5 separate regions of the Homo sapiens genome follow, and regions 1, 2, 3 and 5 are each linked to region 4. The links come from fine-mapping of genetic effects on plasma protein levels. A gene starts in region 4. Each other region holds a variant in brackets. All regions are shown on one strand. Distances are from middle to middle.

Region 1 (5,095 bases), 1.8 Mb before region 4:
GCTGGCGAACTTGGTGCACAGCCTCCTGGTGAAGGTAAAGATATGCCAGAAGACGGTGAAGCGCTACGATGTGGGTGCCCCATCCTCCATCACCATCAGCCTGCCAGGCACAGACCCTCAAGACGCCGAGCGGAGAAGGTACTGTGAAATTTTCCAAAATCTTGTCAAGCTAGGAGCATACTGGTCGAGTCACATGCCATCTGTTGAGGTGTTCGCTGTACATAGGTGGAGACCTACAGTCAGGTATTGGGGCACATCCGGAAAGACAAAATCAGTCTTTGGCCTTAAGGAACTCAGCAGTTAGGTGTCTGGGGTCCACGAGGCACTTTTCTCACCACTCGGGCCACTTAATAAGTCTCAAGAAATGCAGTTTCCTTTGGTGCTGTGAAGTCCCAGTGGAGGGACACAGAACCCTGGCCTTGCCTCAGAATCTCAGAATCCTAGACATTGGGCCTGTGGGAGCCAGAAGCAACCTGCTGGTACTTTCCCCTGTGAGGAAGGGACAGGGAAGGAGGCCTGGGGTCCTCAAAAGGTGATCTGGGCCACTCCAATTTCCAAATGCTGTGTCCTCTTCCTGGGCTTTAACTCAGATGCTGTGCTTCTCTGCCACTTACTTATTGAGAGGGAAGCTTGGGGTATTACCACATTTACCTCTGTCTCCAGCAAGCATGTGTCACCAAAACCAGGGACAGGCTACATGACCCACTGAGGGAGCCTGCTGACACCAGGGAGTGGCGATGACCCTTTCATTATCTGTAAACCAAGCTATCCACAGCATCAGGAGTCCCAGCTGAATTATTCACTGAATGCACTTTGGCCAGGGCAGGAGGGATCTTTTTAAATTCAGCTTACTCTCTCTCCCAGATCTGTGGAGCCAGCAGAGTGGTCCCAGCCTTCATAAGATCCACAGCTCCATTTCCAACATTATTCCTCACTGTTTTGAGGCAATTACTCGAGTAGTAAAATCTGGGACGGGCTTTGTCTTTTGCATTGCCAAGGCTCCTGCTTTTGCTCACCTGTGAATGGGGTTGTGGCAGGAAGCTCTATGAATTTAGCTGCAGTTATCCCTGTATTTACTCTCCACTGGGCTATGGAATTGAGTGTGGGACACACTCCTTTCTTGAAGGAGTTCCAGCTGGGGAAGGGCCACAGATCACTATGGCCCAAGGTATGGTAGGTGTTGAAAAGTATATACAGCATGCTGCAGGGCATAATTCTGGGCCCTAGAGCTTGGGTCTTTATAGGTGATAAGCCCTAAGGACAGAAGTCTCTCTTAACCTTAGCTGGTATTAAAGATGGGGCCAGGTGAGCTGGGCCTGGTAGGAATTGAGCTGTCCCTCAGAGCCATTCAGGTGGGGCCAGGCCAGTGGGGACCCCTCCTCCACTGAGAGGTGTTGGAATGTTAGGGTTGGCTGGACATTCAAAAACCTCTGCCTAGGCCCAAGAAAATGGACAGGGGGGAAGCAGGTTGGTGGGGAGGAAGGGAGGGTCAAGAGGCGGGTTCTTGGCATAGCCTTATGGTTGTTAGCTTACATGGGGGTGGCGGTTATTCCTCCAGCCAGTTTGACATCTGACTGCATGGCCACGCCCAACTCCAAAGGGCTACCAGGAGAGGGAGGCAGGGTTTCCTATCTGTCTCTCTGGTCCTTGTGAGGAAGTGACTAGCGTAACACTAGCTCTCTGCCTTGGCAGGCTTTAGATGGAACTGGCAAGGGCATCATCAGGATGGCAGCCTGGGTAGCAGCAGGGAAAGACTGTCCTGTCTATACCAACTTGTCATGTGTGAGACTGACGGGCAGGGGGGAAGCGTGCTAGGGCTTTCTACACCTGTGCCCTTGTTGCCTCTCTTGTCGTGTTCCCTGACATGGTGGAGATTTTGGTTCTCAGCTGGAACCTGAAAGGCTACACAGGCTGTCCCCACATTGGTGGCACAGAGAGGCTGAGGTATAGGAGTCCACAGTGGTCACTGTTGAAACGGTTCCCTGGCAGCTGCAGCACTCCACCTTCTGGTGGGTCAGGGTCCCAAGCACATGTGTAAACCTTCTTCTGTTGGACTTTCCCACCTGCCCTCAAAGTGGGGCCTCTAAGGGTCCACCCTGTGGAAGCAGTAGGCTCTGGCCTGTGCCTACCCATGTGAGCTGTTTCTCCTTCTTCTCCTCTTGCAAGGGCTCCGCTAAGTCCCTGCTCTAACAAGGGCCTTGGTGGCTTTGGGGGTTCTTCTGAGAGGGAGAATATTAGCATCAGTTAGGAGGGGTAGACTCACCCAAGTTGGCCCTGCTTCCTGGGCTGAGAGCCAAGGGAGGTGTTGAATTCCAGCCTTCCCCA[T/C]TGACCCTTGCCAGGAGGCTCAAGATACCCCTAACCAGGAGAGGGGGAGAATTAATAACCCTTCCCTTGGATGTGATGCCAGCACCCAGGCAGAAACTCCTGGAAACTCCAGAACTTGCCGTTCCACCCATCTGCCCTAGGGCACTAGTTCCACTGACCCTTAGATACCACCCTCAGAACCATTCCTGGTGGCTGGCCTCGTGGGCAGTCTGGCAGACACCCAGCTGACCTTCCCATCCCGGAGGTGCCTCAGCTATGGAGGGAAGATTCTTAGAGCCTTTGGGTTATCATTCTGATGGCAGAGTGGGTCCTAAACCAATCTCTGGGGAGTCCCAGGCTCTGCATGGTGAAGGGGAAACATAGGATTCTGGGGGAGGAGTCTAGGTGGTACGGTGAGGAGTCAGCCTGCTGCGGAAGGGTAGAGGGCATGAGCCAAGGCCAAACCCAGAGTGACCTTTCCTCTCTCCTCTGGCCCCAGGCAACTGGCCCTGAAGGCACTCAATGAGCGGCTGAAGAGAGTGGAAGACCAGTCCATCTGGCCCAGCATGGATGATGATGAAGAGGAGTCTGGGGCCAAGGTGGACAGCCCCCTGCCCTCAGACAAAGCTCCCACACCCCCAGGGAAGGGGGCTGCCCCAGAATCCAGTCTAATCACCTTCGAGGCAGCTCCCCCGACGCTGTAACTCCAGACCACCTTGAGTGTGGCACCTCCCCTCCCAAGCCCCCCTTGACATCCTCTCAGCTACTCCAGGGCACCTGACTGCTCTGAGGAGAGGGAAGAAGGCCTGCTGGGGCTTTCCATGGCCTTCTGCTGTTTCTCGCCAACACTACCCAGGACTCTTGCTACCTGGTTCCAACTCCAGACAACCACTATGCCAGGCCCGGAGCCTCTGAGGCATCGGCCAGTCCAGGCCCTCATCTGAGGTAAGAATGTACATCAGCTGGCAGCCCCAAGCAAGTGGCTGCAGGGACACTGATGCCACAGCTCCTGGGCCGGCCCTCACATCTGAAACTGGTTGCCGAGAGCCCTGAGCCAAGGCAAGGATTTGCCAAAAATGTTCTGGGGGCCCAGCAAATGCAGGAGCCGACCTGGGGCTGCACATCCCTGCCCATCCCCAGAAAGACTGTTCCTGTCAGGATTTGTTTCCCTCTGCTGTGGCGGTGACTGCTTCTGGACCAGAACAGCTCCAGCTCCCAGGTATTTTCTACAGGACCACTTGAGTGGGCAGCCAAGCCCAGGCTCGCAGTATCAATAAAGCAGTTCTCTGAGGAATGACTCCTGGGCTCTTGTCAGGCCACCTTGTGCAGCCCCCTCATCACGTTCAACTGCAATGTTAGACAGGGACTTGATTGTCTCCATGGTAACTCCAGCTGGATAAGAAGCCCATTGCCCCAGCTCCCCACCACCGCCACCACCACCACCACATGCGCACTGCCAAGCAGCCTTCCAAGAGCTATTGCCTCAGACTCTTACTCCTTTTTTCTTTCCCTCCAAACCCCAATCTGGGAGGCCTTCTGTCCCTGCCTAGATCTGATGATAAGGGCCTCTCCATCATAAGGCGCTGTTCTTACCCATGGTTTATCTCTAAGACAGAATGCTCAGTTCTTGCCACCCCTGGAGACAACTCACCCCCAGCTCCCAGTTATTGTATGTATCTAACCCCCACAGTCTGGAGACTCCAGCACAGTAGACAGTTGGGGGGACAGAAAGGACACACAGCTGTACCATTCACAGCTACAGCTCTAGGGCCTGCCAGGGCCCGGAGTGGCCTGGGAGGCTCAGCAGCTAGACCCTGGGGATTTGTGTGCTAGGAGAGCTTCAGCCCCTCAGGGAGCAGCCAGGGGTCGGGGGTGGGGGGTCCCCATCTTGCCCAGCTGCCCATTTTCCTGTGCTGATGGCATTAACAAGAACCATCCCCAACTCTGGGCTGCTTCTCCCATCAATCTTTTCAGTCATTTTTTACAAATTTTTTACTTTTTTCTCTCCTAAAATTTCTGAACATACAGTACAAGTATGAGCTGCCTTGCAGGAGAGGCAGTCTTGCAGCCCCAGCTTCATCCAGACACATGATGCCTATGTTCCTCTGGGATGACAGAGAAAGGGGAAGGAAATGGGAGGCACTCCAGCATGAGGAGCAGGAATTCACACACGGGCCTCCAAATGCCCAACTGTCCCAGTGCCTGAGGTGTCCCCTGACTCAGCTGAGAGAGTTCAACAGGTCCCTAGGCCCAGCTCCTACATGGAGGGGCAAATCCAGGCTTCCCCTAGGCTGGGAAGAGCTCATGGTTGGATCCTCTTGCGGTATAGGTAGGCATTGCTCACCTGGTTCATAATGACCAAGCTGGTGAGGACAGGGCATAATACAGCCAGGTACCAGGCTGCACCAGTGACAGAGGCAGTGAACCAGAGTGAGCACATGCCCAGCAAGAGGCTGGCACTACCCAGCAGGTAGCCCACCAGCCCAGAAGTAGCATGGTATAGCTTGAGCTTCGCCAGGGGCCATCGGGGCAGCAGCTTGGGGTAGAGCAGCCCCACCCCACCTGAGCACTGCAGCCCTGCCCACAGCACAGCCAGCAGCCCTGCCTGCCCATGCCGCGTAACCAGGTGGGCTTTGCCAAGCTGCTCTTTGTGGAGGATGACAAGGCCGAGGCCCAGCAGTGCACACAGCAGGGCCAGCAGCTGCAGCACCCAGTGGCAGCGTGCTCGGCCTTTCCGTGAGAGGGAGTGCAGCAGCGAACTCTCAGGAGAAAACACCAGTAGTGCCTCGGT
Region 2 (5,100 bases), 770 kb before region 4:
ACCAGACAAGGAAATACCCTTCTTTTATGAGCAGAAGGAAACAAAAAAAAAAAAAGAAGACCGTTTACCTAGAAGAAGCTATGTCAAGAGGCTGAATTATTTTTATTTTTAAACAGGTGGTGAGAAATTTCTGTGAAACCTGTGAAGCTGAAAAGGGGGTGGGATGGGGGTACTCAATGGAGTATGTCTGATGGATCCCGAAGAATGGAGAGGAACACAGGCGCTGAGTATGGAGCAGCCTGGAGACCCACCCCACCTGCAGGGCTGCCCTGAGCGCCTGGATTTCTGGTTCTGATGCCAATACTAGTCACCCCAAGTAGTCTGCTCACAGTAACCCAAACCTCAAGTAAACTCCCCTTTCCCTCGCTATGTGCACTGATATGGGTTTATAATTTTCTGAAAGTTACCCACTGAAGCCCATTTCTCCGTTGAGTCATCTTGTAATTTCCAGCTTTCTCCCCGCTAAGGAAGATATCTAGTGTTGGGGATCCTGGCCCCTCAACCTCCTGTGGAACCCAGCAGTTCTGTTATATCCCCTGCTACCCTAGATGAATTAAGACGGTTAAATACTGTGTGGAACTTTTATTAGATAACACACTTTTTATTAGATAACGCTTAAAGGAAGTCAGTACATAAAACTGCCCGGTGCTGTGTCCCGTCTAGTTGTTTCCATGTTGGCTTGAGAACAGAAATCTTTGTGGGAGTTAGCCGGGAAAGGGCTCCAGTTCATGGCGATTTAGGGTAGTAATACATTTTGGTGTTACCCAGATGCTTTCTAGAACGGGTTCTTTCCTCATCCCTGCCAAGACTCTTCCCGGGGCCCCCATTCGAAAGCCCCGTCCCCACTCCCACCGCGGGGCCAGCCGCTGCGTGTGGGCAAGGCCTTAAGGAACCGGACGTATGGGTCCGGGATTTTTTGTCTGACCTTCAACCTAATCCGTGGGGGTTTGGGGCCTGCGCGGGGCACGCGCATGCGATGACCGTTGGATGGGTCGGCGTCACTGCGCTGCGGGTGAGGACAAGGACGTGGCTGCCGACTCGCCAAAGGGGGGGTGCCGGTAGGGCCAGCGGCCTGGGAGCCGCGGTGGGGCGGGAGGCAGCGGCGGGGCGGGCCAGGAAGCTGTGGGAAGTGGGGCGGGGCGTCTTTGGGGCTTCTGGCAGATGGCGGGTTCCTCCGCGAGAGCCGAGAACCGCCTACTCCAGGAGGAAAGCCCGAGGGTTGTGGGTCCTGCTATAGCCAGGGCCAAGCTCCAGGAAATCGTGGCCATTCAGGGGTAGTTTGCAGCCTCATTTGTAACATTATTGTGTTGTCCTGTGCATTTCCAATGCATTACATAAAGACATGGTCGCTTTTAGGAGAAATGTCTGAAAAACTAAGAAGATGCAGAAAGGAACTGACTGCAGCCATTGACCGGGCCTTTGAAGGAGTTAGTTATTCCCAGGAGTGCACAGGCCAGCAGAGGCTGGAACTGAGCGCCGCGCCGCTCTCCTTCTCGCTGCCCGTGCACAGGCTCCTCTGCAGAAGACATCCTCTGGCAGCCTGCTCTTCTGCTGCTCCTTTTGCTGCTGTCCCATGTGCTCCTGAGAATGAGAACCCTGCCTTTGCAACAAACCATGCCCCGGTAAATGCAAAACCACATGCTCTGTGCCCCGAGAGAAAACCTCTAACCAGCAAGGAAAATGTATTGATGCATTCCTCCATTTTGGCACCTGAAAGAGAGTCTTGGAGAACTGCAGGAGAGGGGGAAAACTGGAGAAAAGAAAATTTAAGGTGATTCTAATTTTGATGGTTTAACAGCTACAATTAAGGGGATTCTTGTTTCTGAAAAAGTTGTTGAAGATCCTAGATTTAGTTCATGACAGTGCTCTTGCCTCCTCTTGGCAGCTCTGTGACTGCATTTGGGGAGTTGACAGACATTCTTCAGAATCTGGCCTAGGAAACAGTTATATTTTGTGTATATGTTCCAGTTGAGGGGCTAGTTGTCAATCGTTGATGTCAAAAACCAGTCATGGAAACCACTTTGCAGTACCCAAAGGGGTAGTGGATGTAAAATAACCGGGTTTTAAAAATAACCTTATTTTTTAAGTTGCAGAAACAAAAGTCTTAATTCCATCTTAACTCCTGTGTTTGAATCTGGACACTGGGGCCTTTGATACCCTCCTTTGCCCACATTAGGGAGAGGCTTAATTGAAGGCTGGGCCCTACTTCCTGGCTTCATCTTTGCCTCTGCTCCCCGCTCTTACCCCAGATCTTTTTGGACCATCACCAGGTCTCTTCTAGACTTTTTCTTCTCCCGAGTAACTTGAAATTGCCTGGTCCCAGGCACCTTGACTTGGAGAAGGGATGAATGTATGAGATGAAACTTCAGGCCGGGCGCGGTGGCTCACACTTGTAATCCCAGCACTTTGGGAGGCCGAGGCGGGCAGATCACGAGGTCAGGAGATCGAGACCATCCTGGCTAACACGGTGAAACTCTGTCTCTACTAAAAATACAAAAAATTAGCCGGGCGTGGTGGCGGGCGCCTGTAGTCCCAGCTACTCGGGAGGCTGAGGCAGGAGAATGGCATGAACCCGGGAGGCGGAGCTTGCAGTGAGCCGAGATCACGCCACTGCACTCCAGCCTGGGCGACAGAGCGAGACTCCGTATCAAAAAAAAAAAAAAAAAAAAAAAAAAAAA[C/AAAAAAAC]TTCAAAGTTCTGCCATCTTGGCTGCTTCATAGGAAGGGGATAAAGAGGCCATTTAATTGGTTCAACTCCACAAGAATTTTTTTCCTTTCAACTCCACAAATATTTATATTGGTACTCATAAGCAGTGCAGGCCTTGCCGGGTGTGGTGGCACGCCTGTAATCTCAGCACTTTGGGAGGCTGAGGTGGGTGGATCGCTTGAGGTCTGGTGAAACCCCGTCTCCACTAAAAATACAAACATAAGCCGAGCGTGGTGGCGCGCGCCTATGATCCCAGCTACTTGGGAGGCCGAGGCAGGAGAATTGCTTGAATCCTGGAGGCAGAGGTTGCAGTGAGCTGAGATCTTGCCATGGCACTCCAGCCTGGGCAACAGAGCAAGACTCCATCTTAAAAAAAAAAAAATGCTGGGCACAGTGGCTCACGCCTGAATCCCAGCACTTTGAGAGGCTGAGGCGGATGAATCACCTGAGGTCAGGAGTTTGAGACCAGCCTGGCCAACATGGTGAAACCCCGTCTCTACTAAAAATAGAAAAATTAGCTGGGTGCCGTTGCGGCCGCCTGTAATCCCAGCTGCTCCAGAGGCTGAGACAGGAGAATCGCTTGAACCCAGGAGAAGGAGGTTGCGATGAGCCGAAATTGCGCCCTTGCACACCAGCCTGGGCGACAAGAGCAAGACTCTGTCTTTAAAACAAACAGGCCAGGCGCGGTGGTTCACTCCTGTAATCCCAGCACTTTGGAAGACTGAGGCGGGCAGATCACCTGAGGTCAGGAGTTCGAGACCAGCCTGGCCAACATGGTGAAACCCCCATCTCTACTAAAAATACAAAAATTAGCTGGGCGTGGTGGCAGGCGCCTGTAATCCCAGCTACTCAGGAGGCTGAGGCAGGAGAATCACTTGAACCTGGGAGGCAGAGGTTGCAGTGAGCCGTGATTGCGCCATTGCACTCCAGCCTGGGGGACAAAGCGAGACTTCATCTCAAAAAAATAAATAAAAAATAAAAATAAATAAATAAGTAAACAAATGCAGGCTGGGTGAGGTGGCTCATGCCCGTATTCCCAGCACTTTGGGAGGCTGAGGCGAGTGGATCGCCTGAGCCCAGGAGTTCGAGACCAGCCTGGGCAACATGGCTAAACCCTGTCTCTAAAAAAGAAAAAAATTTAATACAGTCTGCGATGCTCGTGAGTCATTATGGTAAAGCTGTTAGTCAATTTCTCCACTGATGTAGCAGTTTCCAATTGTCCTTTAATCAAAGCATAAATGACAAGGTCACCAGTAAGTTTTTGTCTTTGAGATTATCTAAAACTGAGTTTCCCTTCAATATTTTCTTGAAAGAGAATCTAATTCCCCACCTTTTCTTCCCCCCCACCTGGGGGCTGCAGGAAAGATATGGAGAGAGATTTGAAGGCTGACTCAAACATGCCACTCAACAATTCTAGCCAAGAGGTCACAAAGGATCTGCTTGATATGATTGGTGAGTACAGTGGGCAAGTCCATCCTGTCCTTGGGAAGATAGGTCCTTCACATGGGTCTGAGTCAGCAAATATCTCAGATATAAGAAATGCTCTCGGCCAGGCACGGTGGTTCATGCCTGTAATCCCAGCACTTTGGAAGGCCGAGGAGATCGAATCATGAGGTCAGGAGTTCAAGACCAGTCTAACCAATATGGTGAAACCCCGTCTCTACTAAAAATACAAAAATTAGCCAGGCGTGGTGGTGCACGCCGGTAATCCCAGCTACTCGGGAGGCCGAGGCAGGAGAATTGCTTGAACCCGGGAGGCAGAGGTTGCAGTGAGCTGAGATCTTGCCACTGCACTCCAGCCTGGGGGACAGAGTGAGACTCCCATCTCAAAAAAAAACAAAAAACACTCTCTTCTAGCTTGGGTACCATACATAGCGAGATCTGTCTCTTAAAATTTTTTTTAATTAGCTGGGCACAGTGGTGTGTGCCCATAATCCCAGCTACTAGGGAGGCTGAGGTGGAAGGATCACTTGAGCCCAGGAGTTCAAGCTATGATCATACCACTGTACTGCAGCCTGGGCAACTGTGCGAGACCTCATCTCAAAAGAAAAAACACCACCACCACTTTTTGGGGGGAGAGACAGAGTCTCATCATATTACCCAGGCTGGAGTGCAGTGGCACGATCACAGTTCACTGCAGCCTCAACCTCCCTGGGCTCAGGTGATCCTCCCAGCTCAGCCTCCCAAGTAGCCATAGTACTACACTAGTACTACAGGTGCACGCCACCATGATTGGCTAATATTTGTATTAGGGTTTTGCTGTGTTGTCCAGGCTGGTCTCGAACTCCTAGTCTCAAGTAATCCACTTACTGTGGCCTCCCAGTGCTGGGATCAGGCAAGAGCCACCACTCCCGGCCAAAACACTCTTATCTTTTTATTTGGTAGATGTTTTGCTCAGACTCT
Region 3 (5,100 bases), 1.2 Mb after region 4:
CACTTGAGCTCATGAGTTCAAGACCAGCCTGGGCAACACAGTGAAACCCCACCTCTACCAAAAATACAAAAATTAGCCAGGCATGGGGGCGCATGCCTGTGGTCCCAGCTGCTTGGGAAGCTGAGGTGGGAGAATCACTTGAGCCCAGCAGGTAGAGGTTTCAGTAAGCTGAGATCATGCCACTGCACTCCAACCTGGGTAATAGAGCAACACTCTGTCTCAAAAACAAGAAAAGAAATCAGTCAAGTGTATGTTATTCTTTTAGAAGTCATATAGGCTAGGAACTCTTTATTTTTTTATGCAAGTTCTCGCTGTGTTGCCCAGGCAATGGGCACATGTGCAATGGCTATTCACAGGCATGATCATAGTGCCTTCTCACAACATAGCAACTTACTTCCTCAACGTCAATAGCAGGATCTTTTTTAAAGGGCCAGAAAGACAAGGCAAGGCCAGGCGCGGTGTCTCACACCTGTAATCCCAGAGCTTTGGGAGGCCGGGGCAGGCGGATCACTGGAAGTCAGGAGTTCGAGACCAGCCTGGCCAACATGGTGAAACCCCCTCTCTATTAAAAATACAAAAAAAGAAAGACAAGGCAAGAGGGTACTTCAGAAGGGGGACTGAAGAGTAAAGGTGAATGACCTGCTGTGGTGGCTCATGCCTGTAATCCCAGCACTTTGGGAGGCTAAGGCAGGAGGATTGCTTGAGCTCAGGAGTTTAAGACCAGTCTGAGCAACATGGCGAAACCCTGTCTCTACAAAAAAATATAAAAAATTAGCCTGGCATGGTGGCCTGTACCTGTGATTTTAGCTACCTGGGAGGCTGAGGTAGGAGGATCACTTGAGCCCGGGAGGCAGAAGTTGCAGTGAGCCAACATCACGCCACTGCACTTCAGCCTGGGCAACAGAGTGAGAATGATCTCAAAAAAAAAAAAAAAAAGAAGAAGAAAAATGAAGTGACCCCTTATATTCTTGGTGAGTGTCACTGGATTTGTAGAACAGGCCTGACCATAGACTATAGCCTCACTACTATAAGCTATAGAGGTATGGCCACAGGAGTCTGCTAGGCTTGCTCCACAGCCTCAGGCCTTCCCTCTTCAGCGGGTGCTCTCCTCTCCCCAGGGGGGGCTGTCCCCCACCCTCACTTTGGGGCTTGTTCATAGCACTTCTCATCAGCATTTAAGGAGACATCAGTCTATCCCTCAAGGACCTTTTTCTCCAAGAACAGCCATTTCCACCACACCACCACCCTGTCTCTACAAAAAATTCCTTTTTAAGTATATTCTGGTCATAAGGCCTCCTCCTGTAAATTAGAGGTAAGGGCCTACTGTCCCTTTAAAAATACAAATTACTAGGTCAGGCACAGTGGCTCATGCCTGTAATCCCAGCACTGTAGCAGGCCGAGGCGGGCAGATCTCTTGAACTCATAAGTTCCAGACCAGCCTGGGCACATGGTGAAACCCTGTCTCTACAAAAAATACAAAAATTAGCCAGGTGTGGTAGTGCACGCTGGTAGTCCCAGCTACTCAGGAAGCCGAGGTGGGAGGATGGCTTGGGCCCGGGAGGCAGAGGTTATAGTGAGCCGAGATCGTGCCACCACACTCTAGTATGGGTGACAGACTGAGATGCTCTCCCAAAAAAAAAAAAAAAAAGGAGAACACAAAATAAATAAAAATATAAATTATTATTTTTATAGTAATACATGCTCACTAAAAAAAACCCACAAAACTGTATAAAAAAGATAAAATAACCTATAAACCCCAACCCAGAAGCAACTATTATTAACATCTTATTAGCAGAATTCTGCTTATTTCTTCTATGAATGCTTTTGCATTTCTTAGATCAGCTATAATATGATTTTGGATTCTACATTTCTCTCTGTTATTAAAAACTATGTGTCAGCATTTTCCTGGCTGCCCAATATCCCACTGTATACATAGATCATTCCCAAATTGTTGGACATGCAGGTTGATTCTGATTCAATATTCATAAACATTTTTAAGGCTCTTGATTTTTATTGTCACTTTGCTTTCCAGAAAGCTATACCAATTCACACTTCCCCAGCGGCGGGTGAAAGTGTAGATGTGGACTCCAATTTGACTCCCTTTCTATTAGTTTATAAAAGAGGTTTGCCTGGAAGGCCCAGCTGATCGCAGTGATATGAGACCACTTGTGTAGCTATTGGTATAATTGAAAAATGACCCAAGTGCCTTGTCGTTTTAGTTTTTCGAAATGTTGCCTATGATTCCCTTCCTCTTCAGGGTGAGACCAACAGGATTATAGCCTCCCACACTATGAACAAAAACTCTTCCAGATCACACTGCATTTTCACCATCTACTTAGAGGTAGGTGCAAGCTCTTTGATCAGCCCAGGCGGGGCAGTCAATTCCCACGGGGCCTGCTCAGTCAGAAACTTCTCCCTGTGACAGTCTAACTTCTGCTTGGATGTTTTGTAGGCCCATTCCCGGACCTTATCAGAGGAAAAGTACATCACTTCCAAAATTAACTTGGTGGATCTGGCAGGCTCAGAGAGGCTGGGGAAGTCTGGGGTAAGTGATGGGGGCTGGAGGTTGCTACTCAATAAACCACAAGCCCTTTTTCTGGCACAGTGCCTGCACATCTGGGCCATGACTCATTGGATATTTGTGAACACAGTCCTGAGCTAGGCGAAGTGGGACATGTGGGCTTGCTGGAGGGACAGGATTTGCAAAAAGGGAACGGCTATTACCTGGGGGCGGTTCCTACCTCAGAGGATTTTTGTAAACATTAAATGAGATAGTGCCCTCTACATTCTTAGCAAAGTGCCTGGCACTCAGTGCTCAGTAAATATTCCTTGCTGGTATAGCATTTCTCTGTGTGTGTTTTTGTTGTTGTTGTTTTGAGACACAGTCTCGCCGTGTCTCCCAGGCTGGGGTACAGTAGCACAAATACAGCTCACTGCAGCCTTGACCTCCCAGGCTCAAGTGATCATCCCACTTCAGTGTCTCAAGTATCTGGGACCACAGGTATGCACCA[C/T]CATGACCAGCTAATTTTTAAATTTTTTTGTAGAGACGGGGTCTCGCTATGTTGCCAAGGCTGAACTTGAACTCCTGGGCTCAAGCGATCCTCCTGCTTTGGCCTCCCAAAGTGCTGGGATTACAAGTGTGAGCCACCACACCTGGCTTCTTTGTGAATGAATATGAGTATTCGTATGAGTATTTGCATGAGTATTTCAAATAAATATTTGTATGAGTGTATTAGCAGAAGTATTAACAAGAGTATTCAGATGAGCATTTGTATGTGCATTCATGAGTGTTTGTGTGAATATTCACAGGATTCTTTGCTCAAATATCTAGACAAGTATTTCAGTACATATTCATATTAGTGTGAATCTTTGAGTGAATGTCCATATGAATATTCATGTAAGCATTCACATTCGCATGAGTATTCACATGAGTGTTCACATGAATATTTCTGAGTTTTGGTATTACCATTATTAGCCCAAGATGGAATACAATCGCATGACATTGAAAGAAGACCCTGGTTCTGGGAAGGAGGCGCTGACCTGACCACAGACTTATAGCATTTCTCCAGACCAGGAAGACTGCTATTCTTAGTGGGGCAGCTGCTTTATTCCATCCAAAGTGGAACTGACCTTTGCTTTGTAGTCTGAGGGCCAAGTCCTGAAGGAAGCCACCTACATCAACAAATCGCTCTCATTCCTGGAGCAGGCCATCATTGCCCTTGGGGACCAGAAGCGGGACCACATCCCCTTTCGGCAGTGCAAGCTCACCCACGCTCTGAAGGACTCGTTAGGTGAGGGGGTACAGTTGCTGCCCAGGGAGGAGGGTCTGTGTCTTTGGGGAGGGACAGGTTTGGCACATCTGCCACTGGTGATGATAGAATTGCTCCCTCCTGGTGGCATGGATTCACCTGCAGCACATTCACAGTGACTTCAGACACCTGGAAAGGCAGAATCAAGCACTGTGCCCAGAACACACTATGCTATTCACTCCTCAGAACCTTCCTTAGGCTTTTTACCTGTGCTAGGAATACCTTCTCTTTTCCTCTTGTCCTGAGGAGACAGCTGGCAGAATCCTTCACAGCCTGAAGACTTGGGGCGAGGGCCTCTCTCCCATGGTGTCTTCCCTTCCCCTGCAGCCTCCTGTACAGAGCAGCGGGGGCTTTGTCTTATCATCCCCATAGCCCTAGGCCTTTGTGTTGAGCCTGACAACACAGTCACTAGTGTCTGATTGTTAACTGAGTGCCACCCTGAGCAAAGCTCCAACTCATACCTCCCTCTCCTGTCCCTGCCCCTCCCTGCCCTGTATCATCTCTCCTCTGCTGTTTTCTCCTGGATCCTCTTTTAGGTACATGTGGTGGCCTCTCTTTCTCTCTTCCCCTTACCTCCCAGCCTCACAGATGTGTGTGTCCTCTCTGACCCTGTCTCAGTTCAGGCTGCTATAAGAAAATACCATAAACTAAGTGGCTTAAACAATAGACATTTATTTCACATAGTTCTGGAGACTGGAAGGTTCAAGATTCAAGTGCCAGCAGATTCAATGCCTAGCGAGGGCCCTCCTCCTGGCTTGCAGATGGCTACCTTCTCGCGTATCCTCACATGGAAAGAAAGAGAGGGTTCTGGTCTCTTTCCTTATAAGGACACTAACCCCATCATGGGGGCCCCACCCTCTGACTTCAACTAAACCAAATTACCTCCCCCTCCCCAAGTCCTCCATCCAGATGCCATCACGTCGGGGTTACAACTTCAACATATGAATTTTATAAGGACAAAAACATTCAGTCTTGACCAGGTGTGGTGGCTCACACCTGTAATCCCAGCATTTTGGGAGGCTGAGACAGGAGGATCGCTTGAGGCCAGGAGTTCAAGACCAGCCTGGGCAACATAGCAAGACCTCATCTCTACTAAAAACAAAAAAAATTAGCCAGGTGTGGTAGTGTGCACCTGTGGTGCGAGCTACTTGGGAGGCTGAGGCAAGAGGATCACTTGAGCCCAGGAGACTGAGGCTGCAGTGAGCTGTGATTGTGTCACTGCACTACAGCCTGGGTGACATAGTGAGACCCTGTTTCAAAAAAACAAATAAAAAGCATTCAGTATATAACA
Region 4 (5,086 bases):
CAGTCTCGCTCTGTTACCCAGGCTGGAGTGCAGTGGTGCGATCTCGGCTCACTGCAACCTCCGCCTCCTTGGTTCAAGTGATTCTCCCACCTCAGCCTCCTGAGCAGCTGGGATTATAGGTGCACGCCACCACGCCTGGCTAATTTTTTTTGTATGTTTAGTAGAGATGGAGTTTCGCCATGTTGGCCAGGCTAGTCTTGAACTCCTGACCTCAGGTTATCCACCCGCCTCGGCCTCCCAAAGTGCTGGGATTACAGGCTTGAGCCACCTTGTCCAGATGTTTTCTTTTTTTTTTTAGGTTTTTTTTTTTTGAGACAGAGTCTTGCTCTGTTGCCCAGTCTGGAGTGCAGTAGTGCAATCTTAGCTCACTGTAACCTCTGCCTCCTGGGCTCAAGCAATCCTCCCTTGTAGCTGGGAATACAGGCACGCATCACCATGCCCAGCTAATTTTTGTATTTTTTGTAGAGACGGGGTTTTGTCATGTTGCCCAGGCTAGTCTCAAACTCCGCGCTCAAGAGGTATCTGCCTACCTCTGCCTCCCAAAGTGCTGGTATTACAGGCATGAGTCACCACGGTGCCCGGCCCTGGTGAGAACTTCTCTGTCAGTTGGAGGAAACTGACTCTGCCCAACTTAATCAGAAACCCAATTTATGAAAAGCAACTGTGGAGCCCTCAGAGCCAACAAGGCGGCTGGAAAGAAAGGTTCCAAGTCGAAGCAGTATCGTCTCCAGCCCAAACCACAGTGCTACTTTGGCCTGGTGAGCATGCCACTGCTCCTGCCACGAGGGGGAAGCAGGGGCCTTTGTGACTCACACAGCCCTCCCCACAGGTGCAGACTCATGTTTCTGCCAGGACTGCTGCAGCCCTCCATCAAAGCTGGTGGCCAGTACCCCTGACTGACTCCAGGGAGGCTACATCTGATTGGTTGGGGCTGGGCAAAAGCTCTTGCCCTGGGGCAAAGGAATCTGAAAAAGATAATATCTAGCGTGTTCCTCCTCTGATGTGGAGGAAAGGGGACCAGGTGCTGAATGAAGAAGAATGGCAAGGATCCTTGAGCAAGCGTTCCACTGTAGAACTCACCGATCTGGTCCTGCAGTCAGTCCTGGGGCTGGGCTGATGGCCTCATTCTCACCTGGTTACTCTCACCCTGGGCTTTACAAGCATCAGTGGGTGTTGCTTTGCTCCACCAGCCTGATGCAGAGTTCTCACCTACAAACTGTAACCAAGGTCCCAGCAGAACACAGTCATTCTTAACAAACTGGGTATTTGAGGAGAGTTTGATAAAAGTGCTGTTGCACTTTGGGAGGCTGAGGCGGGCAGATTGCTTGAGCCCAGGAGTTCGAGACCAGCCTGGGAAACATGGCAAAAACCCTACTTCTACAAAAAATACAAAAATTAGCTGGGCGTGGTGGTGTGCATCTGTGGTCCCAGTTACTCCAAAGGTTGAGGTGGGAGGATCACCCCAGTTTCCTGGGGAAATTGGGGCCGCAGTGAGCCGTGACTGCACTCCAGCCTGGGTGACAGTGAGACCTTGTCTCAAAAAAAAAAAAAAAAATTGCTGTTTACAGAGCTGTAGGAAGGTTTGGGGAGCCACCTAGCTTTGGTACAGCATCTGGGCCAAGTCCTAGCCTTGGTACAGCATCTGGGCCAAGTTTGGTTTCTGCCTTGGAGGGGTCACTTTCCCCAGGCAACTTGTATTTCCAGGCTTTGCAAGCCTGAGCTGCAGAGACAAAACTCCTCAGACACCGAGTTAAAGAAGGAAGGGGTTTATTTGGCCGGGGGCATCGGCAAGACTCCTGTCTCAAGAGCAGAGTCCCCCGAGTGAGCAATTCCTGTCCCTTTTAAGAGGGTGCTCGTGAGAGGGTCGTGATCGATTGAGCAAGCAGGGGGTACGTGACTGGGGGCTGCATGCACCAGTAATTAGGTCAGAACAAAACAGGATAGGGATTTTCACAGTGCTTTTCTATACAATGTCTGTAATCTATAGATAACATAACTGATTAGGTCAGGGGTCGATCTTTAACTACCAGACCCAGGGTGTGGCGCCGGGCTGTCTGCTTGTGGATTTCATTTCTGCCTTTTAGTTTTTACTTTTTCTTTCTTTGGAGGCAGAAATGGGGCATAAGACAATATGAGGGGTGGTCTCCTCCCTTAGACCCACAGAAAATGCCTGCACACATGGGCACATGCCTGTGAGATGCATGGTTGCGATTTCCAAGCCACTGGGGTGATCCTAGCCTCCACTCACTCCTGCCCATGCACAGCCCTGGGTGGAGCCCAAAACACCCACCAAGCTCAACCATGAGCTGTGGGCAGATAAGAGGGTATGGGAGAGCCAAAGACCAAAAAAGTAGGGAGGAAGAGGCCAGGTGAGAGGCCCCTAAAGGATCTGGGGTTGGGGGCAGCAGAGTAGAGAAGCCAAAGGCAAGCATAGGAGGTGGGAAAGGACAATTCTTTTTTTTTTCATTTTTTTTTTTCGAGATGGAGTCTTGCTCTGTCACCCAGGTTGGAGTGCAATGGCGCGATCTTGGCTCACCACAACCTCTGCCTCCCGAGTTCAAGCGATTCTCCTGCCTCAGCCTCCTGAGTGGCTGGTATTACAGGCATGCACCACCACACCTGGCTAATTTTGTATTTTTAGTAGAGACGGGGCTCTACTGAACATGGAGATGTTGGTCCATGTCTATCCAACATGGAGATGTTGGTCAGGCTGGTCTCAAACTCCCAACCTCAGGTGATCTGCCTGCCTCTGCCTCCCAAAGTGCTGGGATTACAGGTGTGAGCCACTGCACCAGGCCTTGTTTTTCTATTTTTGAGACAGGGTCTTGCTCTGTTGCCCAGACTGGAGTGCAGTGGCACAATCATAACTGCAACCTTCATCTCCTGGGCTCAAATGATCCTCCCACCTCAGCCTCCCAAGTAGCTGAGACCACAGGTGCTTGCTACCATACCCAGCTAATTTTAAAATTTTCTGTAGATATGGGGTCTCCTTATGTTGCCCAGGCTTAGAACAACTCTTAGGAGCTTGGCTGGGGGGCAGGGACTGGAAAACCAAGGAACAAGAAACCAAGCTTGTGGATGGTGCAGAGTGGAATGAGCAACCTTTAGGGAGGCAGAGGGCTGGGCACCCAGGGTGTGGAACACAGGATGGCTCTAGAGCTGGACATGAGGAGCATACACTGGCCATTCTGCAGAAGGGGGACCTAGGCTGCACCCAGCTTTGGAGAGTGGCGCTCAGGAGGCAGAGGTGGGATAACCAGGCTGGGCTGTCAGGGAGGATGTGACTCCAGTCCCTCACTAAGACCCTCCCAGAGGGCATCCTGCCTGGGAACTGTCATATCCCTGCCCCCCACATGTGTATTGAGCACGGTGAGTCTTAAGCCCTTCTTGGCCAGGAGGTGATGGGGGCTTATTGGAGACCCAGGCCTTCCTCTCCCTGTTCTAACACCCTAGCCTGGGAAACTACTGGGAACATCCCAGATTGTCCCCTTGGGTTTCTCTTTGTCCACAGCGATGCCCCCACCTTTAGGTGAGAAATATATGGTGGCACACAGGGTGCACAACCCAGCCTGGGTGCCCCACTAGTGTGACATTTCACGTTTTCTGTCTTGAGTGAAATGTTCTGATTGTGCTAGGTGCAGAGTGGGGGTGGGTCAGGAACTCTGGGCATAAAAGGAAGAATGACTCAACATCCCTGATTCTGCCTGGACCCCTGCCCCGAAGTGAGGGGGCGGAGCCCTGTGTGGGAAGTTGGCCTGGCTGTGTGCCCTGGGAGCTGCCAGTTTCTAGCTCAGTCCTGGCCCACTGCGCCAGCGCTGAGCCTGCCAGGGCTGGGGCTGGGGATCACCTTGGGATGATGGTGTCAGTCCCAGGGGGCAGGAGATCGAGTGTCCTCTGAGCTGGCGACTGGGCCTGTAGAAGGGAACCGGCATTTGTGGAGTGTCTACTGAGTGCCAAGGTCTGCGCTGGGCACTGTCCTCGCACCGCCTCACCTAGTCCTCACGTAGCCCTCGGGCAAGTGAGGATCCGCCGGGACTGCGGCTGGGAGGGATGGCTGTGGCTGTCCCCCAGCCCACACAGTAGGCGCTCAGTGTCAGGGTGCATATTCCCGGGGACGCCCTCCAGGCCTGAGAGCTGGGGGCCGCCGCCGCCCCCCATGCATCCGGTGAGCAGAAGGAAACTCCGTGCGTCGCCCGGCGCCTGTCCGAGTCTGGGAACCGGTACCAAGTTTTCGCGCAGACCCCGGGCGCGAAGCTGGCCCCGAGGCTGGGAAGTCGTCCGCTTCCTTCCTTCCTCCTCCTTCCACCTTCCTCCCTCCTCCCTCCTCCCTCCTCCTCCCTCCTCCTCCTCCTGCTCCCCCGGACAGAGGTTCCGGGAACCAGCCGGGCCGGGGCGGGGCGGGGCGAGGGAGAGGGGCGGCCGCGCGGATCACTGAGGCTGTGGCGGCACTGCGCCCGGCGCTCGCGTCCGTCCGCCCGTCCGCCCGCCCAGCCATGACTGCGCCGGTCCCCGCGCCGCGGATCCTGTTGCCGTTGCTGTTGCTGCTGCTGCTAACGCCGCCTCCGGGTGGTGAGCCGGGGGTGGGGGCGGCCCGTCCTGCCCTGGGACCGGGCAGACACTTCCCCGCGCTGCCTCTCCAACGAGCCGGGCAGCACCAGCCCCACTATGCCCCCCACTGACCCCTGATTGCCCCGAGGCCGTCAGCGAACCCCCACGACTGCGGACCCCTCCTCCACCCCAGCACCCTCCTTGCCTGAACAACCCTGCCTAGACACCAGGCAGCTGCCACCTTTGTCTGTCCTGGAACGGTGGGGAGGGGTCTGCCCTCCCGCCCATGTTCCAGGGGATGGAGTCCCCAGAGGCTAGGGTAGGGTTCCCTGCCTGGCTTTAGTCTGGCGGGTGGCTGCAGGGCGAGCTGGCCCCTCCATCAGAGGCCTTCCCTCTTTGCCTCTGTTTAATGTCTGGGAGCCCCCACCGCTGCCTCCGTTGGCCCTTGTGTTCCTGTAGAGCCCGGCGCTGAGGCTGGCCTCTGGGGTGGAGACACCACTGTGTGTGTTGGTTGCAGATAGGTGATTCACAGAGTCTG
Region 5 (5,094 bases), 1.0 Mb after region 4:
AAAAATTAGCCAGGCATGGTGGTGTGGGCCTGTAGTCCCAGCTACTCGGGAGGCTGAGGCAGGAGAATCGCTTGAACCCAGGAGGCGGAGGTTGCAGTGAGCCAAGATCGCGCCACTGCACTCCAGCCTGGGCGACAGAGTGAGACTCTGTCTCAAAAAAAGAAAAAAGAAAAACGACTTGGGGAGGCCGTACCCGTGGACCAGGGTTGCTGCCCCAACTGCTGCCACTCACCAGAACAATTGGAGTACTTGGGCAGAAACTGAGAGTCCTGCCCTGGGAGGGAAGCTGGATTCTACCCCTCTAAATGGGCTGCCATGTGGCTCTGTGCCTTCTCAAACTTCTCTTCTGGAACCACTCCCAAGCCTCCACCACAGCTTCCTGGTTAACTTCAAGTTGAGCACTCCTGACCCAATAAGAGTGGCTAGGAGTCTTGGCCCAGAGTCCTTCAGAGGCAAGTCTGGTAGGTCACACAGAGGACCAAGCCCAGCAGTACTATGTGTGTAGTGCTGCAGCAGGGCCTGAGGAGAAGGTGCTGCTGGGCAGCTGTGGCCTCTCTTCAGCCAGACCCCCAGAGCATTGTAGTCAGCAGTAACACCATCAAAACAGGTATCTAGCCTTCCTGGGCCTCTGTAGTGAATGTACAAATTCTAATGTGATTTTCAAAATTAGTCTAGCCCGCAAGTACAAAACCATGCTTAGAAGAAAGAACAAAGGGACCGGGCACAGTGGCTCACGCCTGTAATCCCAGCACTTTGGGAGGCCGAGGTGGGCGGATCACCTGAGGTCAGAGTTCCAGACCAGCCTGGCCAACATAGTGAAACCCCGCCTCTACTAAAAATACAAAAATTGCCCAGGCATGGTGATGCGCACCCATAATCCAGCTACTTGGGAGGCTGAAGCAGGAGAATTGCCTGAACCTAGGAGGCAGAGGTTGCAGTAAGCCAAGATTGCGCCACTGCACTCCAGCCTGGGCAACAGAGTGAGACTCTGCTTCAAAAAAAAAAAAAAAAAACATAAAAATACTTTAAGGGTCTTCCTCTGAAAGACTTTTTCCTTCTGTTTCCTTTTTTTTTCCTCTTTCACATTTTCTGTATTGAGCCAATATGACTACTGTAATGGAGGGGAACCCTTTATTTGTAGTTAGCTGGTGATAGGCTTTATTTTACAAGTTGGCCCCATTACCAGATGGCACATCTGACTATCATCTCATAGAGGCCTCAGCTGAAGGGCACAGAGAAGGTAGGGTGGGGTTCCCAGTGGAGCAGGTCCTGGGGTGGCTGCTCCTCTTTCATTCTTCTCTGTCTCTGTAGCTGAGGATCCTGTGGAGGAGACCATCGCAGCCCGCAGTCCACCGGGATCAGAGCTTCACTTACCAGTATAAGATACAGGACAAAAGCGTGTCCTTTTTTGCCAAAGGAATGTCTCCTGCTGTTCTGTGACCTGATTTCGGAGCAGCTGAAGCTACATAGGACTGTTTTTGGACGTGGAAGATAGAGCAACATAGCAAGAATGGGTCTTTCTCCTCTGTAGTAATATTTCAGGCTGGACCGGCGACTCCACTGTGACCAGAGGGTTGAGTGCTGCAGTGATGGCATGCCTTGGCTGCCCTGGGCCCTGTTCAGAAAACACAAGGGACCACAATCCTGCCTTTGCTGAGAGAGAGGCTGGATGCTAGACCCAAGTGAAAGGGGTCCTTTGGAGCCTTTGTTTAAATATGCCTTAGCCCCAGCTGCCCATTTTTGGTTGACAAGCCTTTCAGAGCCAGAGTGGGTATAGATGTGCCAGCCAGGAGATGGCACCGGATGGCAGGTGTGCAAGGTGACAACTAGGATAATCATGGCTGGAATAAAGTAAGTTTCCACACTGGAGCTTCCTGTGGGTTGTCTTGTTCAATTTCCATCCTGGAAAGGTACTTTCCCTTTCCCTATGAGTTCAGCGAGGAAACAGACCTAGAGAGGTTTGGAAGCACACAGGCTGCACAGCAGGCTGTAAGTAACTGTGCCTCACTCCACAGTCCA[C/T]ACTTGCTGACTGACAGTCATGGAACCCAGAGGCCAGCTCCCCACCCAAAGGTGGGGACCTTTGGCTTCTCCAGTTTCTGTGGTGCCTTGCCTTTATGCCAACAAATCCTAGCCATCAAGGGCCTGGCACCAGGGCCTTGGCCACATGAGGCCCTGTGTAGGCGCAGGTGTGTATGGTCTTGGTGAGAGGGGTAAGGGATGTTCTTGCTGCCAGGCGGATCAGGCCTTGGCGAGTTGCTGGTGCCTCCCTCACCTGTGAAGACTGCAGGAGGTGGGCTCTTGCCCCGCATCCTGTAGATGACAACTAGTCCCACTCAGCCCCTCAGTTGAGGTCACCTCAGAGTAGACACCAGGTGTATTCTCTTAAAATGGCTGCTTTTTTGGTATATAAATTATATTACAATGAATTTTATCTTAAAGAAAATGAAAAAATAATACTATTTTGCTGTATACTAAGGAACTTACATAGCTGTTATTTTCTTTTCTTTTCTTTTCTTTTTTTGAGACAGTCTTGCTCTGTCACCCAGGCTGGAGTGCAGTGGCCCGATCTCGGCTCACTGCAAGCTCCGCCTCCCGGGTTCATGCCATTCTCCTGCCTCAGCCTCCTAAGTAGCTGGGACTACAGGCACCTGCCACCATGCCCGGCTAATTTTTTGTATTTTTAGTAGAGACGGGGTTTCACCGTGCTAGCCAGGATGGTCTTGATCTCCTGACCTCATGATCCGCCTGCCTTGGCCTCCCAAAGTGCTAGGATTACAGGCATGTGAGCCACCATGCCTGGCCTTTTTTTTTTTTTTTTTTTTTTTTTTTTTGAGATGGAGTCTTGCTTTGTCACCCAGGCTGGAGTGCAGTGGTGGCATGATCTTGGCTCACCACAACCTCCGCCTCCCGGGTTCAAGCTATTCTCCTGCCTCACCCTCCCAAGTAGCTGGGATTACAGGCACGTGCCACTGTGCCCAGCTAATTTTTGTATTTTTAGTAGAGATGGGGTTTTGCCATATTGGCTAGGCTCGTCTTGAACTCCTGACCTCAGGTGATCTGCCTGCCTTGGCCTCCCAAAGTGCTGGGATTACAGGCATGAGTCACCATGCCCAGCCTCTTTTCTTTGTTTTGAGACATGGTCTCTCTCTGTTGCTCAGGCTGGACTGCAGTGGTGTGGTTATAGCTCACTGCAGCCTCGACTCTCTGGGCTCAAGGGCTCTTCCCACTTCAGTCTCCCAAGTAGCTGGGATTACAGGTGCGTGTCACCACGCCCAGCTCATATCTGTTGTTTAATTTTAACTTTTTGGATTTTTAGTCTTTAGGAAAAATTTATCACACTTCTCTTCAAATCATACCATTGTGTATGTTATCCGTCTGAAACAGTAAGCTGCTTTTATTCTCAAAATACTGTAGACCTGATAGAATATTTGAAAGTTATGAGTGCAATTAAGAGAAAGTAGTTATTAAAGAATCTAATGATTCTTTGACTAAGACTTCATTATTTATGCAAACTTCGTTTGAGCTACGATTTTGAATGGGCAAGGCACCATTTTTTACATGACATAAATGTTGCTATCATGTTTCTTCACTTAGTTTATAGATGTTTTCACTATTTTTTTTGAGACAGGTTCTCTCTGTTGCCTAGGCTGGAGTGCAGTGTGGCACTTCTTAGTTCACGTGAATTCCAAGTGATCCTCCCCTACCTCAGCATTCTGAGTAGCTGGTACTACAGGTGCCCACCACCATGCCTGGCTGTTTTTAATTTTTTTGTAGAAACGGGGTGTCACTTTGCTGCCCAGGGTAGTCTTGAACTCCTGGGCTCAAGAGATCCTCCCGTCTCAGCCTCCCCTTAAATATTTTATGTTTAATAGCTATTGAGGGCGGGGCACAGTGGCTCACGCCTGTAATCCCAGTACTTTGGGAAGCCAAGGCGGGTGGATCACCTGAGGTCAGGAGTTCAAGAGCAGCCTGGCCAATATGGTGAAACCCTATCTCTACTAAAAATACAAAAATTAGCTGGGCGTGGTGGTGGGCACCTGTAATCCCAGCTACTTGGGAGGCTGAGGCAGGAGAATCACTTGAACCCAGGAGGCGGAGGTTGCAGTGAGCCGAGAATGCACCATTGTGCTCTAGCCTGGGCAACAAGAGCAAAACTCAGTCTCAAAAAAAAAAGCTATTCAGCATTTTATGCTATCATTATATTCTAGTTTGTTTAGTTATCCTCTGGGCATGTAGATTCTGGTTTTTACAGTTATCAATTATGCTGTTATAAATTTTATATACTCTACCTATTGCGGGTGGGGATAAGTACTTGTTTGTTTAGAACCTGACAAACCAGGTCACTGGCAGAGCTCATAGAACTTACGTTCTGGAAGAGAAGACAGGCAATCAACAGAATCGACAAAGGACATATTTAACTTAGACCACAATAAGTGCTATAAATAAACCAGCACAGGGGCCTGTGAGAAGTGAGGGGTGATGACATTTTAGTCCATACCCTCTAATGGAATTATTGAATTACAGCAGAAACTGGCCCTGGCACATTATCAGGTTGTTCTTCAGAATGATGGAGCCAGTTGACAATGATGCAGAGATTTTGCTCTGTCAACTTTGGGTTTAACTTATTTTTAATTAATTTAATAGTGGTGGTTGTGTGAGAATGGACTAATACAGGGGTAGAAAAACAGGATCATAAGGTGTGATATGGTCCATAAAAATGATTCTAGTGTGAAATGGACATTTCTTTAATCACTAGCATATAATTTTCTCTGTATTTTTCCGTGTGTACAGAATCTGTTCCTTATCCTTGCTTACTTATCAATTAAAACCTGGTGTTGGTCGGGCATGGTGGCTCATGCCTGTAATCCCAGCACTTTGGGAGGCTGAGGCAGGCAGATCACTTGAGTCCAGGATTTTATTTTTATTTATTTATTTATTTTGAGACAGAGTCTTGCCCTGTTGCCCAGGCTGGAGTGCAGTGGCGCAATCTTGGCTCACTGCAACCTCCACCTCCCGGGTTCAAGCGATTCTTCTACTTCAGCCTCCCGAGTAGCTGGGACTACAGGTGCCTGCCACCACGCCCAGCTAAGTTTT

Which allele goes with the higher level. Positions count from the first base shown, and alleles are read on the strand shown. Strength reflects both the effect of a copy and how common the allele is.
As copies of C replace T in region 1, the plasma level of the protein whose gene starts at base 4,414 in region 4 goes down (weak association).
For the plasma level of the protein whose gene starts at base 4,414 in region 4, C is the high allele of the variant in region 2 and AAAAAAAC is the other (weak association).
As copies of T replace C in region 3, the plasma level of the protein whose gene starts at base 4,414 in region 4 goes up (weak association).
With allele T in place of C in region 5, the plasma level of the protein whose gene starts at base 4,414 in region 4 is lower (moderate association).

What was found. PIP is the posterior inclusion probability: the model's chance that the variant is causal. The UK Biobank Pharma Proteomics Project read protein levels with antibody pairs (Olink). The fine-mapping took linkage between variants from a reference panel, not from the people measured, so its PIPs are less certain.
Region 1: its variant is fine-mapped to the plasma level of the SHISA5 protein (UK Biobank, PIP 0.92).
Region 2: its variant is fine-mapped to the plasma level of the SHISA5 protein (UK Biobank, PIP above 0.99).
Region 3: its variant is fine-mapped to the plasma level of the SHISA5 protein (UK Biobank, PIP 0.94).
Region 5: its variant is fine-mapped to the plasma level of the SHISA5 protein (UK Biobank, PIP 0.99).

Annotation. Positions count from the first base shown.
Region 1 is chr3:50,353,256-50,358,350 of GRCh38, reverse strand. CYB561D2 (cytochrome b561 family member D2) reads right to left here. Exons shown (of 4, transcript NM_001291284.2): 4 at 4,282-5,095. The coding sequence ends at 4,607. It overlaps TMEM115 (transmembrane protein 115), which reads left to right. Exons shown (of 2, transcript NM_007024.5): 1 at 1-138; 2 at 2,804-3,601. The coding sequence ends at 3,008. It overlaps LOC127898564 (CYB561D2-LOC101928965), which reads right to left. Exons shown (of 5, transcript NR_183066.1): 3 at 1-233. Among named protein-coding and RNA genes, the nearest start is that of TMEM115, 3.7 kb to the left of the region's middle. The variant T/C (reference allele first, on the strand shown) is at 2,326.
Region 2 is chr3:49,273,098-49,278,197 of GRCh38, reverse strand. C3orf62 (chromosome 3 open reading frame 62) reads left to right here and starts at 966. Exons shown (of 3, transcript NM_198562.3): 1 at 966-1,771; 2 at 4,058-4,149. The coding sequence starts at 1,326. It overlaps USP4 (ubiquitin specific peptidase 4), which reads left to right. Exons shown (of 22, transcript NM_003363.4): 22 at 1-1,054. It overlaps MIR4271 (microRNA 4271), which reads right to left and starts at 4,078; the gene lies at 4,012-4,078. RefSeq lists a silencer at 943-1,142 and an enhancer at 1,283-1,352. The variant C/AAAAAAAC (reference allele first, on the strand shown) is at 2,679.
Region 3 is chr3:47,264,421-47,269,520 of GRCh38, reverse strand. It overlaps KIF9 (kinesin family member 9), which reads left to right. Exons shown (of 21, transcript NM_182902.4): 6 at 2,258-2,341; 7 at 2,453-2,545; 8 at 3,644-3,791. Among named protein-coding and RNA genes, the nearest start is that of KIF9, 16 kb to the left of the region's middle. The variant C/T (reference allele first, on the strand shown) is at 3,012.
Region 4 is chr3:48,503,502-48,508,587 of GRCh38, reverse strand. It overlaps SHISA5 (shisa family member 5), which reads left to right and starts at 4,414. Exons shown (of 6, transcript NM_016479.6): 1 at 4,414-4,569. The coding sequence starts at 4,494. RefSeq lists an enhancer at 3,329-3,882 and silencers at 4,220-4,699, 4,710-4,759.
Region 5 is chr3:47,492,415-47,497,508 of GRCh38, reverse strand. ELP6 (elongator acetyltransferase complex subunit 6) reads left to right here. Exons shown (of 7, transcript NM_001031703.3): 7 at 1,312-1,869. The coding sequence ends at 1,440. Among named protein-coding and RNA genes, the nearest start is that of ELP6, 19 kb to the left of the region's middle. The variant C/T (reference allele first, on the strand shown) is at 2,020.